2 linked regions of the Homo sapiens genome follow. The protein of the gene in region 1 purifies or fractionates together with the protein of each later gene. This does not show direct contact. Each region holds a gene or a part of one and is shown in the gene's direction. Other genes may lie near its edges. The genes, in order: FAM98B and RNPEP.

Region 1 (3,406 bases):
GTACCCTTGAGCATGTTGTGTCTTTTTAAAAAACAAAAAAAAGAACAAAAATTATTTTTTAAAATGTAAATATTTATTACCATCAGACTTGGAAAATGGAAAGTATTTTATTGTCATGATTGAATTTAGATTGTTACCTGTATTTTGTTCAGGTTTGAGACATATAAAAGACCCCACCTGTAATAGAAAGGAATATAGACCCTTGCCTCACCTGTATTGCTGTGGATGTGTTTTGTGGGTTTTTCATTCGATTTTACAAAATAGGGAAAGGCACTTCCAGTTGTATTTAGTAGGCAGTTGTTGTGAATCATTTTTTTCTCTTATAGGAGGAGATTCCTCTCTAGCCATGTTTCTGTTAAAGTTTCATTAATTGAAGCCCAAGTTTACTTTTTACTGTACATACTTATTTTCTAATTGGATTTGAAATCAGCATGATTTTGTTTGACAAAGCAAAGTTTAAGATTGAGGTCAGAAATACTTTAATGGAGCAAAGACACATACCAACTTTACATGACGGTGTGAGAAATAGTCCTATAAACTGGTCTCTTCATCATTTATGCTCTCACTTTAGATATCCAAATATTAAAAGGCAGGCTGACCTGTATCACACAGAATTAAGGCAGTAATTTTCTGCTTCAGTAGATCAAGGGTAGGGCTAAGGCATCCTGTGGTAATTCTGATTCACAGCTAGATTTGGGAAACACAAAGTTAGGGAATGGCTATATGTGATTTGCTAGTTGGAGCAGTCAAAGTCTTAGCTATCAAGAGTTGTGAATTTGAATCATGGCACTAGGTCAGGGGTGCTATGGATTGAAATGACCTTAGTTCTCAAGGAGTGATTTGTCCTCATTTGTCAAATGAGGAATGAGACACTTACCATCATCTCAGGTTGTTTCTTAAAGACCTAAATACAAATACAATTTGTTAAAAACTTACAGAGGGCCTATTTTGAATGCTTTAAGATGTAGGCCAAGTAATGTATTTTTCTCTTAGTGTAGAAAGTTAAGAGAAAAAGAGCTGGTACCATAAATTTTTTCAATCTTAGTGTAAAATCTGTATCTCATTGTAGGCTTCTGGTCAATACCTATACATAACAACTTAATGTGATCTAACCAACTCAACTGATAGAAAGCTGAATTGTTCCCAGTGGACAAGTGGTATTTGATGTTTAGCAGGTTTTTTTGTTGTTATTTTTTTGGTAAACTCTGTGGTAAAATCTAAAATAATGTTAAAACCCTAAAAGTAACTATTGAATATTCTGTAATCTTAGACATGTATTTTTCAAGCTAACCCTTTGAAGAAATGTGTTCAAGGTAGGAAAATATAAAATTTTTTGGTTATTTGTAAATTTATTTTTTGTGTGTTTATATTTAATGAAAAGATGTAATTTCATTTGTGATAGCTGAAAAAAAGGCTTTCCATAATTAAGAAAATACCTTTATCAGTAGCTATGAACTCTGAAAAATAATTTTTAAAAACTTTTAAGAAAAAAACTACTTGAGTAAAATATTTCAAGAGTTGTTTAAAAATCTTCTTTAAAACCTTTACATTTCTGCCTCACTTCTTTTTTGGTAGCATTAGTTGCTGATGAAGGAGATTTACAACTACTTTCAACTTTTTTACCACTAAAGGTTTATGGTAAATATGGCAGAAACAATAGTTTATCAGTTTCATTAGATTTTCCATAAGATTTCTTTGTACCTTTATAGGAGTGCTGCTTGGGTTATTCACTACAATCACTTATTTCCTATCAAAGTTTAGCACTTGCTCCTGGAATCGTGTTGGAGCTGAAACCACTCCTATGTACACATTCCTATAAACCTTAATTGAATGAAAAGCTGAATCAGGTAGACTCTTAATATTTTACTCTTTCCTGTAAGGTGGGATTTTCCTGATAATCTTTGTTCAGTAAAAATTTCTTTTGTAGAACAGTTTGCTGAGCAGTATCTGGAATAGCAGGAAGGAAATTTGGGGCCTTAATGGGAAAGGCCATAGTGTGAAAATGTTTTATAAATTGAGTGCAATACGACATGGAGTATGATGAATGGCACTCCACTGCTTCCTAAAATCCAACACTTTTTTTGATACCTCCTTTTCATTCTTTTTTGCCTGGTTCTCAATTTCATTTTTTAATTACCTCATTGTCCTTCCCCTTTTTTCTTCTCTTTTTGTCCAGCCTGGTACCTAATAGCAAATATAGACATGATCTTACTGGGAGTTTCTGCCTAAAGTAGTCATCTTTCCTCTCGACCGTATAAAGAGCATGTATTCTGTCTATAACATAATCACCACACTATTACTCATAAGCACACATCAAAAGGGAAACAAGGGTTTTCTTTGAACTTACTTTTGTTTTGCAGATCAGGGAAACCTTGCCTCATTAAACAGAAAAAGGAAAACATTTTAAATAAAAAACATCTTATTACCTGTATCTGTGACAAGAGGAGGCATGACAACCTAAAAAAAATTTGTGACCAGAAAAATGTCCTGAGCAGTGATACTATCTATACCTTGGAAGGAGCACAGGTTAGAGAAATGTGGGGATGAAAATTGGGGAAGGTGAGCAGGCAGTTTAATCTTGCCTTCAGGATCAGGCTGTCAGTGTGACTTTATTACTTTGTATGAAGTATTATGAATTGCCCAAATGATAAATACACCCCCATCTAAATGTTCCAGAATGCATTCCACAGAGGAATTTGAGTGACTGAAATTTTTCCTCTTTCTTCATTGGTGTGGTTAAACAAAAATTAGCTGGGGATTAAGGGAAAATTGTGGCTATGTCTGATCATTCTAAATAATCATGACCACAAATAAATTGCCCTGAGTAGGTCTGTAACCTGGATTGAGCTGTCGTTACCAATTTTATCCATAGCTTCAAAGGATTTCTTCTTTACATGCTAGTTTGCTTAGATGAAACTGTGGAATTAAAAGCCACAGAGAAGGGACAACCTCAAGTCTGTCTCCTTTAATGTTAAGTATTTATAGACTTAATATTTGGGGACCACTGTAAGTTATGAATAAGATGGAAAGAGATTGAATATTTCTGTAGTGTTACTTCTTCGTGTTGTAAAAAGATGTAGAAAATTTTAAACTGAATAGCTGCTTTGCCTTTCCTTCCAGGAAAACTCAATTTGATTAATAGAATAGGGCAGTGGTCTTAGCTGTGGAATATAGGAAAAATTCAGGTAAAGTGTTTACGGGGTCACGAAGCAGAAGAAACACAAGACATTTGTGTTGTAGGGATCCTAATGTCTTTTATCATATAAATATTACACAAAGAAAACTTACATTAGGTATCAAAAAACTTTACAATCTGTACATTTGTTTTTTTCTTGCATTTCTATATTATACATTTTGAGACAGAAATTCACAACGGTCAGTAAAAAGGTAAGTCAGCAAAGAAAAT
Region 2 (3,822 bases), on another chromosome or scaffold:
TCTCTAAACACCATTCTGCTTTCTCTGCTCTCTTGTCTTTAGGAGCCGGGTGTGGGCTGAGCCCTGCCTGATTGATGCTGCCAAGGAGGAGTACAACGGGGTGATAGAAGAATTTTTGGCAACAGGAGAGAAGCTTTTTGGACCTTATGTTTGGGGAAGGTGTGGTATCACATTGACTCTAGTGTCTCCTGTTAAACTGAGTCACTGGCTTCCATTCTTCCTCTTCGTGTGGCTTTTCCACCTCCTGCCTCCCAGAGCAAAGTTTCCCTGATCCCAGAAGTGAAGGAGAGGAGGAAGAGAGGAGGGTATGAGCCAGGCTTCTCACTGTTGCTGAGGAGAGGGCCTAGGAGATGAGGTTCTTTGTGTGTGTGTGTGTGTGTGTGTGTGTGTGTGTGTGTGTGTGTTTTGAGATGGAGTCTCGCTCTGTCACCCAGGCTGGAGGGCAGTGGCGTGATCTCAGCTCACTGCAACCTCCACCTCCCAGGTTCAAGCGATTCTCCTGCCTCAGCCTCCAGAGTAGCTGGGATTACAGACGCCCTCCACCACACTCAGCTAATTTTTGTATTTTTAGTAGAGACAGGGTTTCACCATGTTGGCCAGGCTGGTCTCGAACTCCTGACCTCAGGTGATCTGTCCACCTTGGTCCCAAAGTGCTGGGATTACAGGTGTGAGCCACCAGGCCCGGCAGAGAAGAGGTTCTTGAGGTGTTCAAAATGTGACCTGCAGTTGCCAAGTTTGAGATGGGGCAGCACCGTCAAGGTCCTTTGTTGACCTGTGTTTTCCCATTGCTGGAAGTTTCCCCACACTCTGTTTTTAACTTTGACATCTTCAGACTTTAGGCTCCTTAGATAAAAGGCTCCAGGTTGGTCTTTATGACCCCAAGTTGGCCTCCAGGGAACTCCATGTGATGGAGCTGATAATACATTTATCACCTCCACCCCTGCTTGGAAGGAGAGAGGGAAACAAATGCCTGGAGAGTGAGCTCCAGGAGAGCAGACACCACCTCGATGAGGGAAGTCCCAGCAAGGCAGGGGAGCCACGTGGGAGAAGCATTGAGGAGCCTGGGCTTTATTTTCCGCACTGGGCCCGAAGTCGTACTCTGCCTGTTTAGTGACTGCATCTGTTAGGGCTTGGAAATAGGCTGGAAAGGGAGGCGAGGTAGGGTCTGCTCCGGGAAGCCAGGGCCTCTTGGTGACCTCCCCGCTTCTCGGCAGGTATGACTTGCTCTTCATGCCACCGTCCTTTCCATTTGGAGGAATGGAGAACCCTTGTCTGACCTTTGTCACCCCCTGCCTGCTAGCTGGGGACCGCTCCTTGGCAGATGTCATCATCCATGAGATCTCCCACAGTTGGTTTGGGAACCTGGTCACCAACGCCAACTGGGGTGAATTCTGGCTCAATGAAGGTTTCACCATGTACGCCCAGAGGAGGATCTCCACCATCCTCTTTGGTAAAGTGCCCACCCCTCTCCTAAGGAGTCTGCCTCCCATTCTTAACCTGTGGGGCCAGTGTGATCTCCTTATGGGGTTTCAGAATACAAGTGGGTGTGAAGAGACGAGGCAGTAGTGTGTATCCAACATTTTTCTGTATGTATGAATTGTCAAACCACACATGGTTTGACAACTGACTTTTTTTTAAAAAAACATTTCCCCAGGTCATTAGTTTTTTTTTTTTTTGAGACAGAGTTTTGCTCTTGTTGCCCAGGCTGGAGTGCAATGGCACGATCTCGGCTCACTGCAACCTCCACCTCCCGGCTTCAAGCGATTCTCCTGCCTCAGCCTCCCGAGTAGCTGGGATTACAGGCATGCGCCACCACACCTGGCTAATTTTGTATTTTTAGAAGAGACGAGGTTTCTCCATGTTGGTCAGGCTGGTCTCGAACTCATGACCTCAGGTGATCCAACCTCCTCGGCCTCTCAAAGTGCCAGGATTACAGGCGTGAGCCACCATGCCCAGCCCATTAGATTTTCTTCTATAGCTGCATATATGGATGTTTTTTAATTTACTGGTTGTTTCCAATTTTCCATTGAAATATGTTGACAAATTTCCTTACACATAAATGTCTATTCATATCAGATGATTTCAACAATGATAAATTCTTAGAAACATAATTTCTGGGTCTGAACTTTTTTTTTTTTTTTTTTTTTGAGACAGAGTCTTGTTCTGTTGCCAGGCTGGAGTGCAGCGTTGCAATCTCGGCTCATTGCAACCTCCACCTCCGTAGTTCAAGCAATTCTCCTGCCTCAGCTCCCCCACATCCCACTCCCTGTAGCTGGGATTACAGGCATGCACCACCATGCCCAGCTAGTTTTTATGTTTTTAGTAGAGACAGGATTTCGGCATATTGGCCAGACTGGTCTTGAACTCCTGGCCTCAAGTGACCTGCCTGTCTAAGCCTCCCAAAGTGCTGAGACAACAGCTGTGAGCCACTGCGCCCGGCCCTGAACGTTTTAAATTACATAGTCTTTTTAGTACATATTGTCCATTATCTTCCAGAAAGTTTGTACAAATTCTGTACTTTCATTCAGAATATATATAGCAAGAGCCTGTTTGTGAATATCTTAATCAGCCATTAGGAATCCTGCAAGCAAATATTTTTATCCCATTGTACAGTTGAAGAAACTGAGGCTGAGAGAGGCTAAGCCACTTACTCAGAGTCAAAACATCTAGGAAAGGGCAGAGCTGGCTGGTTCCAAAACCCTGTGCCCCACCCCTCCACTGTTCCCTCAGTCATTGTTTTTAATGCAGAAGGAGACTTAGAGATCCTTAAAAATTTGGGGTTGATAATTTCTTTTGTCTGACAGAAACAGTTAGATGAAAATAATTCTAAGTTTTCACAGAAGATCAAGTCATTGCCAGGCATGGTGGCTCACGCCTGAGGCAGGTGGATCACCTGAGGTCAGGAGTTTGAGACCAGCCTGACCAAAATGGTGAAACCCCCGTCTCTACTAAAAATACAAAAATTAGCCAGGCATCATGGTGTGTGCCTGTAGTCCCAGCTACTTGGTAAGCTGAGATAGGAGAATTGCTTGAATCCAGGAGGTGGAGGATGCAGTGAGCCGAGATCGTGCCACTGCACTCCAGCCTGGGCAACAGAGCGAGACTCTGTCTCAAAAAAAAAAAAAAAATCAAATCATTTTCTAAAAATAAGGCCGGGGGCTGGGCGTGGTGGTTCACGCTTGTAATCCCAGCACTTTGGGAGGCCAAGGCGGGCATATCACCTGAGATCAGGAGTTTGAGCTTGGCCAACGTGGTAAAGCCCCCTCTCTACTAAAAATACAAAAATTAGCTGGGCGTGGTGGTGCACACCTGTAATCCCGGCTACTCAGGAGGCTGATGCAGAAGAATCGCTTGAACCCAGGAGGAGACGGAGGTTGCAGTGAGCCAAGATCACGCCATTGCACTCCAGCCTGGGTGACAGAGTGAGGCTTTGTCTCAAAAAATAAAATAATAAAATAAATGAAATAAGATAAAATAAAAATACAGTACTTTGATAAGGAAAGGTAACTGTCAGAAAGGTGCGATTCCCCCAGTCCTCACTTAGGAGAGAGACCAACAGCCTGAGTTAACCAAGTCCTTTGTAGCCCACAGCAACAGGGAGCTAGGGACTGAGTCAGGCTCTCTGTAACTGTCCCTATTTGCCCTGGGTCCCCAGGAGGGTAATGTTATTAAGCTTCAGGTATCTGTCGCTGTTCTTCTTGAGGCCACAAGGAGGCAGCACAGTGTCTCTGTCAGGAAAATACACTTGGATGTGGTGACAGACGTTTTCCCGAGGCTTACGTTTGATTCTGCACCAGGCGCTGCGTACACCTGCTTGGAGGC

The links.
Region 2: the proteins of FAM98B (region 1) and RNPEP fractionate together in Homo sapiens (co-fractionation; one large-scale study listed by BioGRID). This does not show direct contact.

Annotation. Positions count from the first base shown.
Region 1 is NC_000015.10:38,484,869-38,488,274, forward strand, and holds the end of FAM98B (protein FAM98B), read left to right. Parts: 3' UTR 1-2,842; downstream 2,843-3,406. UniProt on the Homo sapiens protein: Positively stimulates PRMT1-induced protein arginine dimethylated arginine methylation.
Region 2 is NC_000001.11:201,996,105-201,999,926, forward strand, and holds part of RNPEP (aminopeptidase B), read left to right. Parts: intron 1-42; coding exon 43-159; exon of another isoform or gene 160-305; intron 306-1,214; coding exon 1,215-1,450; intron 1,451-3,797; coding exon 3,798-3,822. UniProt on the Homo sapiens protein: Exopeptidase which selectively removes arginine and/or lysine residues from the N-terminus of several peptide substrates including Arg(0)-Leu-enkephalin, Arg(0)-Met-enkephalin and Arg(-1)-Lys(0)-somatostatin-14.